3 separate regions of the Homo sapiens genome follow, and all the other regions are linked to region 3. Evidence: fine-mapped expression QTL. A gene starts in region 3. Each other region holds a variant in brackets. All regions are shown on one strand. Distances are between the middles of the regions. Region 1 overlaps EEPD1 (endonuclease/exonuclease/phosphatase family domain containing 1). Region 2 overlaps EEPD1 (endonuclease/exonuclease/phosphatase family domain containing 1). Region 3 holds the start of EEPD1 (endonuclease/exonuclease/phosphatase family domain containing 1).

What was found.
Region 1: its variant is fine-mapped to the expression of EEPD1 in pancreas (GTEx, PIP 0.97).
Region 2: its variant is fine-mapped to the expression of EEPD1 in tibial artery (GTEx, PIP above 0.99).

The regions. Positions count from the first base shown.
Region 1 is chr7:36,287,448-36,292,669 of GRCh38, reverse strand. It overlaps EEPD1 (endonuclease/exonuclease/phosphatase family domain containing 1), which reads right to left. Exons shown (of 8, transcript NM_030636.3): 6 at 4,893-5,031. Among named protein-coding and RNA genes, the nearest start is that of MATCAP2, 77 kb to the left of the region's middle. RefSeq lists a silencer at 336-630. The variant C/G (reference allele first, on the strand shown) is at 2,294.
Region 2 is chr7:36,243,523-36,248,744 of GRCh38, reverse strand. The region is part of intron 3 of EEPD1 (endonuclease/exonuclease/phosphatase family domain containing 1); the gene reads right to left. Among named protein-coding and RNA genes, the nearest start is that of EEPD1, 93 kb to the right of the region's middle. RefSeq lists an enhancer at 2,049-2,551. The variant A/C (reference allele first, on the strand shown) is at 2,823.
Region 3 is chr7:36,150,293-36,155,514 of GRCh38, reverse strand. EEPD1 (endonuclease/exonuclease/phosphatase family domain containing 1) reads right to left here and starts at 2,261. Exons shown (of 8, transcript NM_030636.3): 1 at 1,841-2,261; 2 at 313-1,382. The coding sequence starts at 1,190. RefSeq lists a silencer at 2,130-2,849.

The sequences.
Region 1 (5,222 bases), 140 kb before region 3:
TGGGCATAGTGGTGGGCGCCTGTAATCCCAGTTACTTGGGAGGCTGAGGCAGGAGAATCGCTTGAACCCGGGAGACAGAGGTTGCAGTGAGCCAACATGGCTCCACTGCACTCCAGCCTCGGCTAGAGTGAGACTCTGTCAAAGAAGAAAAGAAAGAAGAGAAAGAGAAAGAGAAAAAGAGAGAGAAAGAGAGAGAGAGAGAAAGACAAGGAGGGAGGGAGGGAGAGACAGAGAGAGAGAAAGAAAAAGAGAGAAAAAGAAAGAAAAGAAAGAAAGAAAAGAAAAGAAAACAAAACAAAAGAAAAGAAAAGAAAAAAGAAAGAAAGAAAACAGTGGTTCTCGGCCCCGGTTCTAAGAGAAAACAGCTGGATGACTCTGAGTGTGGAATTTGAAGTTTGTCACTTCCCAGCTTCGTGACCTTGGGCAAGCCTTTTAGTCTATAAAAGGGAAAGAACAAGCCATTTCCTCCCAGGTTGGTGTCAGGATTAGAGGAGCCGCCAGAAGCGCCTGGCACGGGGCACTCACATGTAGCGTGGGCCCCCTTCCTGATCAGTTTCCTGATACAGCTTCACAGGTTTGTCAGGGAGAGACACACAGTGGAAGTTAAATATGTGTGCATAAGAACTACAAAGTGATTTCAGGGCCAAGGGGGAAAGGTTTTCTCCTAAAGCATTTTAGACATTTCTCCCACAGTCTGATTTACCCTAGAGGAAGTGGGATAGTTATGAAGTATTTTCCAAGCAAAGCGAGTAGAAATCCTGAAAGAACACTCGCCCCCCAGCTGGGCTCTGCGGGATTCCCCTGGGCTCTGCTTGACCCTTGTTGTCCCACAGCAGGAGGTGGCATTTCTGCCACACCTTGTGAAGGAGGCTTTAGGGAAAGCAGTTCATAAACGAAGTCATAAATGTATCCACGACACTTGGCAAATCTTTTTTTCCTGGCCACGGGTGTGCTTCCGTAATAACAACTGCAGGGAAAGGAATCTGAAGGGAAGCCACTCAGGCCACCACCAGAGGGCGCATGTGCATTGCAGATGGCGCCCTCCTCTAGGAGGAGTGAGGACAATGGGTGGGATGGAAGGAAGCCTCTCCTGCAGGGCCACCCACACCATGGAGAAATCAGTGCCAGCTTGAATAATAGTCATGGCACTGTGCTGACCACTTCCTCGATAGCACCGCACTTAACAGCCACGACCCATGGGGCAGGTGCTGTTACCATCTCCCTTCTGCAGGTACGAAACAGGCTCCCAGAGGTGGGAAGGTTTGTCCAAAGTCACCAGGCCAGGCCTCAAATCCAGGGCTCACCACAAAGGGCTAGGATGGAAGACCACACGGAAGTGGCTGCTGTCCACTGCGACACCAAGTGCATCAGCAGGCACTCAATAAATATGTGAGCAACAGACAAGCGGAACCACAAATGTCCCAGAATTAGGGTGCAGTTTGATTTGGAAAGGAACAAAGAGAAAGATGCTACATTCATTGAATATCAAAGAAAACAAAGTTCCCATATAATGAGGGAGGTTTTCGTTGGGATGCAGGCCTGCAAAGGTCTGGGCTGAAAAAGACAATTCTAAAGCCAGGAGAGACGCTGGTGTCAAGGGTCAATAGAGCCAGCTCTGTGTAGCTTCAGGAGTGACAACGGTTCCCTTTTTGAATGAGCACATCGGATTTCTTACAACTCATGTTCTTCCGATTGAATCCGCGTCGGTGATGACATCAAGGCAGTTGTTGCTTCTGAGAATCCACAGGTAGATGCGCAGGAGCCTGAGTTATCTTCCTAAAAAGCCACCCACCTGGGCTGGGCTCCTTTGTCGCTCCCTTGATTCCCAGCAGTGAGGGGAGAACGTTTTGGGCTGACTTCCTCAGAGAGTCTCTAGATTTATAAAACGCCAATGACAACTACAGGAACCAGTCCCCACTGAGGGACCATCTGCCAAGATGTCAAGAGTTACTACACACCCTGTTTCACTCTTGCTCAGTTCACAGAGGGAGACCCTGTCCCCAAGTCCTGGTGAGGTCTGAGGGAAGAAGGTTCCACTAGGGGACTGGCATATCCCCACTGACGTCAGCCTGCATGCACGTTCCAGACAAAGGCAGAAAGGCCCGGAGCTTGCTAACCACATCGGTTCTGTTTGCTCTGATAGAAGCTGTGGAATGAAGGCTTTGTCTTTGCTTTAGCTGAACCCCTCTGCTGACTTGTCTACCCTTGTTAGACCTGGGCAGGCTGAATTGCTTCCTGAACCCCTGGGTCTGGAGTGTCACCAGTTAATAATTAATTGGGTACTAGTTACAAG[C/G]AGGGGACACAGGCAGCATGAGTCATTGTCCCTACTTGGATGAGTCAAGGCCAAGCCAGGCTGTGGGTCAATAGTACCTTGGCAATTTGGAACATAACCTGCCCAAGGTTTTCTGCCAAAATCCTGACTACTCCCTGGATACCAGGGGTGGGGTGGGGGGATGGTGACTGCCTAAGGCTGTCAAAGAAGTTATGAGCTGGCATCTTTCCTTTCTGCTTCCACAAAAAGTTTGAGATCAAGAACAATAGTAATGTCCACAGATGTGACAAGCTATCAAGTTGTCCATTTTACAGATCAGAGTCTAACTATAGGTGGACAATTTCCCACACAGTTGCTTCTTGGATAGAGCATCTTCTGACTGTTTTTAGCCTGAGGACTCATCCTTAAAGTAGAACGTTGGTCACGGCATGTCCTGGTTCAAAAGAAAAGCTGCTGCACATCAATCTTCACAGCAGCGTTGTCACAACAGGACAAAGGTGGAAGCTACCCAAGTGTCTATCAGAAGATGAATGGATAAGCAACAAACTATGGTGGATGGATGCACAGTGGGATATTACTTAGCCTCAAAAAGTGAGGAAATTCTGGCCAGGCGCTGTGGCTCACGCCTGTAATCCCAGCACTTTGGGAGGCCGAGGCGGGCAGATCACGAGGTCAGGAGATTGAGACCATCCTGGCTAACACGGTGAAACCCCGTCTCTACTAAAAATACAAAAAATTAGCCAGGCGCGGTGGCGGGCGCCTATAGTCCCAGCTACTCGGGAGGCTGAGGCAGGAGAATGGCGTGAACCCGGGAGGCGGAGCTTGCAGTGAGCCGAGATCGTGCCTCTGCACTCCAGCCTGGGCGACACACACACACAAAAAAGTGAGGAAATTCTGACACATGCTACAACATGGATGAACCTTGAAGACATTATACTAAGTGAAACAAGCCAGACACAAAAGGACAAATATTATCATTCTACTTATTTGGGGCACCTAGAGTAGTCACAATCACAGAGACAGAAGGTAGAATGCTGGTTGCCAAGGGCTGCAGGGAGGGGCGCATGGGGAGATATCGTTGAATGGGTACCGAGCTTCAGTTTGGAAAGATGAAAAGGTTCTGGAGACGGATGGTGGTAATGTTTGTACAACAATGTCAATACATTAGTAGCACTGACTTGAATATGTAAAATGATTAAAATGGTAAATTTTATGTTACATATATTTTACCACAGTAAAAAATCTTTTTTGTTAGAAATGCAAATTCAAATACATATATACATATATACATACATACATCTTTTGAAATGTGAGCCTACAGTTTGACTGAAATATTTTTGTAGTAAAATCTTCATGAATCTCCCAATTTGAGGGGCCAGTTTAACGAGGAAGTCTTAGAAAGCTAGAGAATATTGGTCCAGACTCAAAAGATAGAAGAGAATTCCAAGCCTCCAACTACAAACTCACCTAGACAAGGTCAGTGTTCTGAAAAATCAAGCCAGATGGATAAGATCACAGTCTTCACAGCCTTGTCAACCTTTTCTTTTGGTAAACCAAGTGCAGAAAACCATCTATATTAGTTGGGGCATAGCCCCCCTTTGTCCTGGAGTTCAGCTCCTTTTTTTTTTTTTTTTAAGAGATGGGGTCTTGCTGTGTTGCCCAGACTGGAGTACAGTGGTGCGATCAAAGCTCACTGCAGCCTCGACTTCCTGGGCTCAAGTGATTCTCCCTCCTCAACCTCCTGAATATCTGGGACTACTGGTGTGTACCACCATGCCCGGCTAATTTTTTTCGTTCTTTGTAGAGACAGGGTCTCACTATGTTGCCCAAGCTGCTCTTGAACTCCTGGGCTCAAGTGATCCTCCCGCCTTGGCCTCCCAAAGTGCTGAGATTACAGGCATGAGCTACCGTGCCTAGCTAGAATTCTGCTCTTTTCAGTGTTCTCTTAATTCTTCTCATGTTTTAGAGTCAACTCGTGTACATGAAGTCCCTACTATGTGCTTGGTATTGCTGCAGACACTGTTACTTAGCCCTCTGGGTACTGCTATGAGATGAGTACTGTCCCCCATCAGATGGGGGCCTGAAGTGGTTTGGTGGCTTGCCTGAGGTCCTACAAGATTAAAATCCAGCATTTCTGACAGGTTCAGGGCTTCTTCAACATGCTCTGTATCCCGCCAGAGAGAAAAACTCAATTCACCAATCATCAGCAATTTACCACTTCCCCTTGTCACCCCCGTCTCTCTTTCACAGGAAGAGCACATGCAAATCTGCAGGCGGCACCACCGGAGTGATGCCCGAGGCAGCTGGTCCCAGGATGAGCTGTCTTCGGGGAAGGGCATCATCACTTATATTCTTCCCCCCTAATCCTTTCTATCTAAATGAGGCTAAAAAGCCACAGAGCTGACAGCTTGGAACGCATATGCTAGGTCCACAGAGGCACAGATGTGGCCGTGCAGGGTCAGCTGGGCTCCATGAGATGCCAGAGGTTTGACTGTCCCCTGTACCCGCGACTCACATTGCTGACAAACAGCCAGCCCAAGTGGTCAGAGATGGCTCAGAAGAGGCAGCCCTGCTGCTCTGCAAAACAGTGGCCGAGTCACAGCAAAAGACAATGTCCTACCTTTCAGGGTTTCCTGTAGGGTCTGTGCAAAGCTCGCCAACCGGTGGCCATCACTGTGATTCTTGCTGGGATTCTCGCTCCCCAGGAGGGTCAGGGCTGCCAGGTGAAGGTTAACAAGGGTCAGGTCGTGACTTCCCACCTAGGCAGCAGGAAACAAAGCAACAGGGAGAGGCTCAGAAGCTCATATTTCCTGTATCCGTTACAACCGACTCATAAATAGCTTTGTGCACAGAGTTGACAATGGTAAACAAGAACAAGGCTGGCTCACACCCCCAGGAAATAATGTAAGGTCTTTCATCTTCGATTTTTCCAAGGCACCTGCAGGAACAA
Region 2 (5,222 bases), 93 kb before region 3:
TGATTACAATGAGTTTACTCATGATTAGCCACTGATCTTGCTCAACCCAATGCAAATTTATACAAATATATGAATATTGATCACTCAAGGTGGTATTCAAATTCAGCTCTGACTACATGAAGGGCTAAGTGTGGCGGGGGTGGGGGAAAATAAATAAGGGATCTGAAGAATCTCATTCTGATATTTTTGAAATAACACAGTGTTTTTTTGGAAAAAAAAAAAAAAAAAAAGAGTATCTGGCCGAGGGTGGTGGCTCATGCCTGTAATCCCAGCACTTTGGGAGGCCGAGGTGGGCAGATTACTTGAGGCCAGGAGTTTGAGACCAGCCTGGGAAATGCAGTGAAACCAACTCTCTACTAAAAATAGAAAAAATTAGCTGGGTGTGGTGGTGCAAGCCTGTAATTCCAGCTAGTCGGGAGGCTGAGGGGGGTAAAATCGCTTGAGCTCAGGAGGTGGAGGTTGCAATGAGCTGAGATTGCACCACTGCACTCCAGCCTGGGGGACAGAGTGAGACTCTGTCTCAAAAAAAAAAAAAGTATCTTAAAGTATATATATTTTTATAAGTTAAGATTCTTGAAGTAATTCATTTGGACACCAAGCCCAAATGAAAGGTGTGTCCAGTCCACGTCCTCCAACCTCTCACGTGTCCTCATGGCTCCCATAACCTGCTAGGTGGATGGTCTCTAGGCAGCCCTCACACCCTGTGTGTTCCTTCACTTTTAGGTGCTCCTTTGACATTGTCCACATCTGGAACCCAGAACCTCCTTCTGCGTCCTCTATCCCCCATCCCACATTCTCTGCCTCTCCTGCTGGAGGAGGCTAACACCAACTGTGCAAGTCTGTTTTGCTACAAGTCACACTATGAGAAGATCTGGGCATTGGTTCCCCATCACCTGGGCCAGGACTGATCCTATGGACCTGCTCCCACTCCTGGGAAATGCGGAGATAGGATCGTCCAGTATGCCTGCTAAGGCTGATGTTCAGATTAAATGAGATCACAGAAGATGGGCAGCTGGTTGCACTTAAAGGAGCTGGGAAATGGAGCCCAGTCTGCTGTGATGGGTCCTGGATTACCAACACACCTGCTGTGGACCTGGGGCAGAGGGCACTTCAACTCCCTTGGCCTCAATGTCCTGTCTGCAAAATGACAGGGTTGGATTAGATGGTTTTAAAAGTCTCCCTTGATTCTGAAGTTCTGGGATTCTATGCCATTCAAATGTAAATGTATCTTTATAATCACATGTATCTTTATAACTTTATCCCCGTTGGTAAACAGTATAATTTTGGCACTGAGCAAGCACTCAATTGTTGCAGAAACTAAGTTAATTGCAAGTCCAAATCATAGTGAATAACACTCCAAAAGCACGTAATAAGAGAGGTAGTGTTTATGGATGTACATGTGTGTATATTCAGAAAACACCCTCACCAATTACAGACACAAGCACTTTGCATCCTTAGGTTATTCACACACATCTATGTGAAAATGGCTTATCATCCTCTTTCCTTCTGAAAATTCCCAGGAAGCTATCATTCTAACGTTGCCCACCACTAGGGTTTGCCTGGAAACTCCCTGACTAATCTGTCAAGTTCAATTTTTTTCTTTTCTTTTTTTTTTTTTTTTTGAGATGGAGTCTCACTCTGTCACCCAGGCTGTAGTGCAATGGTGCGATCTCAGCTCACTGCAACCTCTGCCTCCCAGGATCAAGCAATTCTGCCTCAGCCTCCCGAGTAGCTGGAATTACAGGTGTGTGCCACCACGCCTGGCTAATTTTTGTATTTTTGGTAGAGATGGGGTTTCACCATATCGGCCAGGCTGGTCTCGAACTCCTGACCTCAGGCGATCCACCCGCCTTGGCCTCCCAAAGTGCTGGGATTACAGGCGTGAGACACTGCGCCCAGCCCAAGTTCAATTTTTCTAGTCCCAAGCTTGCTGATGAAATGCACATACTCTGTCACACATGTAAAGCACTCTAAGACATCTTAGAGGTCTGCTCCATCTTCAGGAAAACTAGAATAGGAGTTGGGCTCCAAAGCTGAAATTCTAAAAAAAAAACACCTATCAGCAGGGAGGACTGACAGGCATCTTTTCCTAGACAATTTGGCAAAAGGAGCAGTGGGGATGCAACTTCTTTCACATCTTTTAATGGCAACAGATCGATCTCAAGTTGGGCTTCTCCAGAGAGAAGTAAGGACGAGATGCCAGTGATGATGATGATGACGACCACAGCAGCAGCTAATTAGCAGTAGAGGGGATAGTACCAGCTACTGCCACTTTGGTGCTTACGATATACATAACGGCTTTTATTTCACACATCTCACTTAGTTCTCATAACAATATCCTAATAGGATAGGTATTATTCTGAAGCTCCATGTTAAAAAGAAACAGAGGCTAGCCAGTACCTGGCCTCCTATGTCCCCCAGCTGGCAAATGGCAGGGCTGGCTTCAACCCCCACCACTGCCCTCACAGCATGAACTCAGTGGACTTGTAATTATAACAGAGTCATGATCTGGGAGCGGCAGCACTGGCAAGGCCACCAGGTGGGTGGCCTGTGTCTCCTGAGGGCCCAGCTCACACAGGCAGCTTCTCAGGCAGGCACTGGTCTCAGGTTGGGTCAGCCAGTGGTCCGCCCTCTGGTCCTACCACGGTCCAGCTGGAATGACCGGCCAAACTATTGTTTGTGGCTTTGCAGGAAGCCATTTGAAAGGGTCATTGAAAAATGATCTTTCTAAATCAAGCTGTACCAATATTTTTATTTCCTTTTATGAAATGCCACTTTTAAAGGCTTTAGATGGGCCTGTGTTTAAAGCCTGGGAAACAAGT[A/C]CCTGTGACTTAAGTTCAGAAAAACAGAAGTGTCCCACTCTCAGAGCAAAAACAACAGAGAACTGCATGACATGTATCCTTCTTACAGCAAGTTCTTGCTCTTGGGACCTAATGGATGTTTGACAAAAAAAGCACATCTAAATCCAAAACACTTTTTCAGACCAATGTCACATGCACTGACACTCACACATCTTAGATCATCTGCTCATGGTTCTAACCATTTTTCAAAAGAAGAAATTGGTTGAAGAATTTAGATTGTTAATTGTATGGTTTATAACATTTTAAAAATAAGTGACAAGTCACTTTTACTAGTCTGGGAACTGGCTCTGTGTAGCGTTAGGAGAGAAGAGAAACTCAGAAGCCTGATCCCACAAGGGGCCCCCACCTCCTACCCAATCTACTGCACCTAAATGAAGACAAAGAATAAGAGGCAAAAACTAGAACCCTACTGATTTATGCCTTGGGGGTCTCTGTGTATCTATGTACTGGGCTTGTGTTCACCATTCACCTCTTCCCAGAACACGTGATTTGATGGTAAGTAGGGCAGGTGAAACAGGAAAGCCCCCAAACACAGTAAGGACCACTGGAGCAAGGAAGTGGAGAAAATACGAGAAAACTGAGTACACAAGGGCAAAATGTCCCCCTCTTCACAATGTGATCAAGAATCAACTCTGTGGCCAGGCGCGGTAGCTCATGTCTGTAATCCCAGCACTTTGGGAGACCAAGGTGGGTGGATGACCTGAGGCCCGGAGATCAAGACCAGCCTGGCCAACATGGTGAGATCCCATCTCTAATAAAAATACAAAAAAATTAGCTGGGCATGGTGGCAGGCACCTGTAATCCCAGCTACTCAGGAGGCTGAGGCAGGAGAATTGCTTGCACCTGGGAGGTGAAGGTTGCAGTGAGCCGAGATCATACTACTGCACTCTAGCTTGGGCAACAGAGCGAGACTCCATCTCAAAAAAAACAACAAAAAAAAAACATTAGCCGGGCATAATGGCAGACACCTATAATCCCAGCTACTCAGGAGGCTGAGGCAGGAGAATTGCTCGAACTCAGGATGCGGAGGTTGCAGTGAGCCGAGATCACACCATTGCACTCCAGCCTGGGCAACAGGGCAAGACTCCGTCTCCAAAAAAAAAAAAAAAAAAAAAATCAACTCTGAAAAATGAAGCCCAGGTATCGAAGAGTGGGAAGGAATCACAGAGAGCAGTTTCACAGGCTAGGAAAGGGGCTGGGGCCTTCAGGGAAGATCCTCTGCCAGACACAGCAGCTCAGCAGAGGCCACACCGGGAGGAGAACTCGGCTCTGCCAATTGGGAACCTCCTCAGAGCTGGCTCTGGGCTCTGCAGAAAACAGGAAAACCTTGGCACGTCTAAAAATGGGAAGGCTGTCTACCTAAAACCAAGTAATGTTTAGGCAAATGGCTGGTCATTTTAAGTTAAAATACTAAGATCCTAATAACAAGGCCTAATATTAGCAAGAAAAAGCACTTATTTTCTATGAGACCTTAAAAGACTACTACTTCTTTTTAGCTTTTTATATTAGGTTTTACATAATTTAAATCTTTTATTGTTCAAATTTAATCTACCAGTACTTGTGAAGGAAATGGCCCCTTTAGAATAGCTTCCATCTTAAAAGAGGAGGCCTGTGCAGGTCCCCACTGTTGGGACTGTCTGGCTAGAAGCGACCAGTTCTATCATAGCAGGGTGTTGGGAGTTCAGTGATTACAAAACTCAAAGGCAGGTTGTCATTTGAAGCTCAGCTGCATGACAGTAAAAGAGGTTTGAGGTTTGCAGAATGTGTGTCTAACTAAGCCCTTTTTTGCTGGCTCTACCTATTGAATTAAGACTATTTTCTTTTTTTTTAATTATTATTATACTTTAAGTTTTAGGGTACATGTGCACAATGTGCAGGTTAGTTACATATGTATACATGTGCCATGCTGGTGTGCTGCACCCATTAACTCGTCATTTAGCATTAGGTATATCTTCTAATGCTATCCCTCCCCCCTCCCCCTACCCCACAACAGTCCCCAGAGTGTGATGTTCCCCTTCCTGTGTCCATGTGTTCTCATTGTTCAATTCCCATCTATGAGTGAGAACATGCGGTGTTTGGTTTTTTGTCCTTGCGATAGTTTACTGAGAATGATGATTTCCAATTTCATCCATGTCCCTACAAAGGACATGAACTCACATTAGGTTTTACATAATTTAAATATTTTATTGTTCAAATTTAATCCACCAGTACTTGTGAAGGAAATGGCCCCTTTAGAATAGCTTCCATCTTAAAAGAGGAGGCCTGTGCAGGTCCCCACTGTTGGGACTGTCTGGCTAGAAGCGACCAGTTCTATCACAGCAGGGTGTTGGGAGTTCAGTGATTACAAAACTCAAAGGCCGG
Region 3 (5,222 bases):
CTGACTTGGTGTAGACCCAGCATCCTCCAAAGCAGTAACAAAAACACAACCTCTGCTTACCCCAAAATTATGAATCAGTCTCAGATATCTCACACTCAAGACATGGGTCACAAGCCCAGCTGTATTCAGAAAATTCTGGAGCAGAAGGACAGCCCATTCTCAGGTGACGGTATTGGCTGAGGCTTCAAGAACATTGATTAAAAACTCTTGCACCCTCCCTACCCGCAAAAGAATCCATTCATTTGCATCCATAGATGAGGTCACGCACAAGTTGCCTTCACACCCAACACCCATGGTGGTTCCTGTCCTCACCTGTTTTCCAGGAGTGTCATGCACACCACCTCTCGCACCCCGGGGTTGTTGGCCTTCTCCACGGAACAGCCCTGCAAGTTCCAGGTGGCCAGCCTCAGCACAGGCCTCCCATCCCTTGTGCCTCCAAAGGCCTCCACGGACGGCCGAGTGGAGATAATCTGGGTGGGCCCCCCTGGCGGCAGGTCCAGGTCCTCACTCTGCAGGCTCAGGGAAGTGGGGCTCGGGTGAGGCTTGGCGGTGAAGGTCAGTCCCCCGTTCGTGTGGGTGGATGGGGGCCTGGACCTCTCAGCAAACACCTGGTGCCGGATCCTGTCCAGGAAGGCGGCATTGATACCATCCATCCTCACTAGGTCCTCAACGCTGCGAAAGGGCCCATGCTCACGGCGGAAGTCCACGATGCTGAGGGCCATTTTCTCCGAGAGGCCTCGCACGCTCATGAGCTGGGCCGGGGTGGCTGTGTTGATGTTAACACGTGGGGTGAGGGGCACAGCTGTGGCCAGGTGGTGAGGCTGCTGCTCCGCTAGCAGGTCCCGCCGCAGGGAACTGGGAGAGTGCTGCGCTGAGCTGCCCTTGCTGCTCACACAGATCTCAAACTTGACCTGCTCCAGCTTGGTGGCGCCTACACCACTGACCAATGCCAGGTCCTCCACCTTCTTGAAGCCACCGATATACTCTCGGTACTCCACGATGCTGCGTGCCACGGCACGCGTCACCCCAGGCAGGGTCATCAGCTCCTCCTCCGTGGCAGTGTTGATGTTGAGCCGCTCCTGATTCACTAGAATGTTGCTGAAGTTACAGGCTGCGCTGAACTTGCGGCTATGGGACAGGTCCGAGGGGTCCCTGGGGATGGAGCGGTGGCAGCCCAGGGTGCTCCCCATGGTCCGCCAGGATCAGGCTCCCGGGAAGGCCGCACCACTGCAGAAGAGCTCTCTGGCTAGGGAGGAAGCCCAGTAGGCCGTACAAGCACAGAAAAACGGAAGGTGCAGGATTCAGGGACTGAAGAGGTTACTATAGACAAACACCGAATCTTCCATGCCTGGCGTGTCCAAAATTACCTTTCACTTGGCCGCCTAGAAAATAAATCAATAAACATAGAAACCCATTGAATTAAGAAATTTGCATTAGCACCCCCTACCTAGTGCTAGAGTTAGTAACCAGGAGTCGGGGACTGGTGGCTGCCCGTGAACCCCTAAAAACGCAGGCACAATGAGGCTAGGCCCATGTGGATTCTCCTCTAGGGACGTCCGGGTTTTATCACACTGGAGTCCAAAAAGGCTACGAGCCGCTTCTCTTGGGAAGAGACCTATCCCCATCAGCCTCATGCCTCTCCTCCAGGCCTCTCTCAACTCTGACACTTGGGTCACCCACACTTGGGCTCGCGCAGACGGGGTGGCCACTCCACCTCCCCCACGCTCCGCATCTGACACAGCGCTACCTGCAACCTGGGAAGTCCGTGCTCCCCGGAGCGGGCACTGAGAAGGGGCTTATCGACCCCCCACCCGACCTGCCGCGGGTCCCCGCGCCCCACCTCTCGGCCGCTCTGCGGGGCGCCGGTTCCTCTTCCACCTGCGGCTCGGAAGCCTGAGCCCAGCCCGGGACAGCACGGGCCCCCTGCCTCCAGCCTAGGCGTCCGCGCGGGTGTGGGTCACTGGTCAGGCCCTGGAAGCCGACTACGCCGCTTCGGTCTGCGTGTCCCGGCTCTTTCTATGGGAGAAACTTAGCATCGCTCTCCCAGAGTGAATAGAAGCCGCAGGGCTGCTCGGAGGCGGCGGCAGCGGCGGCGAAACCCGCCGCCGAGGCTGCACCGGGGCTTGCGGCGGCGCCGCCGCAGTTGCGTTTACCCCGGCAAAAAGTCCTGCGCCCAACTCGGGCGGGGATCCGCCAGAGCCAGTCCAGACCCAGCACCAGCCGCACGGCTCCCGCTCGCAGTCGGTGTCAAAGCCAAAGTCCCGGCCGCGCCGCGCCGCGCCGCTCGCGCCTCCGCAGGCACCGCGGCCACGCCTCCTCCGCGCGGCAACTCCTCCCCGGGACTCCCGAGGGCACGTGGGGGAGGGGCCCTGGCGCGGGGCGAGGCCTGGCACCAGTGGGTGGAGAGAGGAACCCGAGAGCGCAAGGGCGGGCCTGGAGTGGGAGAGGCGGGGCCATGGAAGAGGGGGCGGCATCAAGGCTCAAGAGGGTGGAGAACGAACCAGAGAGCGCGAGGGGAGGCCCTGGCGTGCGAGAGGAGGAGCCATGGGTGTGGGGGCGTGGCCTGGCACAAATGGGTGGAGAGCAGAACCCTGGAGCGCGTGGGGCGGGCCTGGAGTGCGAGAGGCGGGGTCATAGAGTGTGGGAGCGGGGCCAGGGCGCGATGGGGTAGGAAAAGCGGGGGCGGGGCCATGAGCGCGGGGGTAGGCCCCGGGAGCGCAGAGGCGGGACTTAGGGGGCTTAAGGGGCGGAGCCGGCGCCGTGCCGGCGAGGGCGGGTCACAGGGAGGCTGTCCTAAGTCAGCTGCCCCCGGACCATGGTTGCCGCCCGGGGCCTAGGACTGGTTGTGCCTGGTAGAGGCTGTTTAGGATTGCCCGAGGCGAGATCTGCTCAGCTGCTTTTCGTCTGTCTTTGAGGTGTGGGGATGAAGGCCGGGGCAGTCCCTGAGAGTGCATCGCTGTAGGTCCAGGGTCTCACGGAATTTTGCAGAACGTTCCAGAGGAGACTGAATGGGATCGTCTTAATTTCTGTCCCCACTTTCGGCCTTTTCTTTTCTTCCACCAGTGTATTACCTTTGCTCCGCTCAGAGAGATGTCCTCTAATAACGCCAGCGACGCATTGTGCTCCTAGCAGAGGGCACGCACCACCCTCCTGTGTGTTCGCATAGGTCAAATACAGGTTTGCTCCTTTGCACATTTAGCGCTGTGAGTAAACAAGGATAAGTTTTTGTAATATTAAGTCTAATCATTACGAAGGAGGGAAATGGGGGCTGCTTCCCAAAACCCAGAAGAGTTTTTGCATCACACTGCTAAATGACAATTTGGTTAAAGATTAAAGAGCCCTCTGCATTATAGTGGATACCTAGAGCTAGAGTATTCGATTAAGCAAATCATGCGGTGATATCGTTGAATACTTTGACCCTGGACGTTTAGTGTTCTCTGAAGTTTCATCCCCAACCAATGTGACCAGTGCATCTGGTTTCAATTCCAAGGACTGGGTCAGCAAAAATAGTACCTCTCACAGGCGGAAGGTACTTTGGTTGTAAAATTAGCGGCAGCCCAAGTTTGGAAAATGCTACTGCCTTTCTGAGGCACATTCCCCTGCTATGTATATTGGTCAGAAAACCAAGTCAAACTAGCTTAGACCAAAAAAAAAAAAAAAAAGGTCGGGGGGAAATTTTTGGTTCCTTGTTGAAAAGTTAAGGTAAGGAATCTTACCTCAAGTCTGGTTGCATCCGACCCAAGTGATGATGGGGTCATTAGGACATGGCAGGACTGCCTCCATCTCTGGCTCCACGGTTCTCTTTATTGGCTTTATTTTTAGGCAAGCTATTTGCACTTGATCGCAAAAATGCCTTGCTACCTACCATCATCTCCCACCCAAACACTGGGCTACATTATGCCACGCACTGAAATCCTGGTGCGGTAAGGAAAAAACAGTTTAAGACAAGCAGGAAAACAGAGAAAACTCTTCGTTGAGCAGAATGCCTTGATGCGCAACGTGGCTGTGGAAGCACAGCCGTGGAGCGTGGCTACTTGGGCTGGAAGCAGAGAAAACATATTTTATCATACAAACCAGGACACTCTGGAGGTGAAGAGAGGACTCTATTAATAATATCCTAGAACAACAGAAATAATCTGGTTTTATTCCCCATAAACCTAGCAAATGCTCCCCTTGGTATAAATGAAACCAAGCGTTGGCCAAACCAAAGTGCATTTAAAAACACACATACATACACCCCACAAAAACATGCAATGAGATGGTTAACTTTAAAACGACTGATTGTATCCAATGTTGGTGAGGACGCAGAGCAATTGAAATGGTCATACATTGCTGGTGGAGGTGTAAGATGGCACCACTACTTTGGAAATCAGTTTGGAAGTTTCCTAAGAAGTTAAACGTATACTTACCATATGACTCAACCAATCTACTTATAGGTATTTACCAAAGAAAAAGGAAAACATGAAACCCAGAGACTTGAATGTGGATGTTCATAGGAGCTTTGTTTGTTATAGCCAAACACACACACACACACACACCCACACACACACACACACACACACACACACACAAAGCAAAACAACAAGAAACTCAAATCCATCAGTGGATGAATGAATAAATTGTAGTATATCCATACAATGGAATGCTACTGAGCAATAAAGACAAACTATTACATGACATTGAAAAGTCTCAAAATCGTTATACTGAGTGAAAGAAGCAAGGCAAAAAAGAACATACTGTATGATTCTATTTATATAAAACACCAGAAAATACAAACTGACATACATATAGAGAAAGCAGATCAGTGGTTACCTGGGGATGATGGGGAGGGAGGAATGGATTTTAAAGGGCACAAAGAAACTTTGGGGGCTGATGGCAATGTAGTTTGAGAGGTGATAGTTTCATGGGCATATGAATGTCAAAACTGACAGAATCGTATACTTTAAATATGTGCATTTGGGTGTACTTCAGTGACAACAGCTTTGGAAAAATCTTCAAAAAATGAAAAAAAATTTTCTCTGAATCTAAAAAAACATAGGCCTTGTTTTTGGGGAGAGTGGGGTACGTGAGCCTGGGTGGAGATGAAAAGGTTTAGGAGGGGGATGAAGGGGTCCAAGAAGTTGAACAGACAGCTAATAGAAGAGAACATTCCCCAGCTTGGCTTGGGGGCTCAGGAAAGTGGGCGACAGAGGCCTTTAAACTTACGGCTAACAGTCTATTTT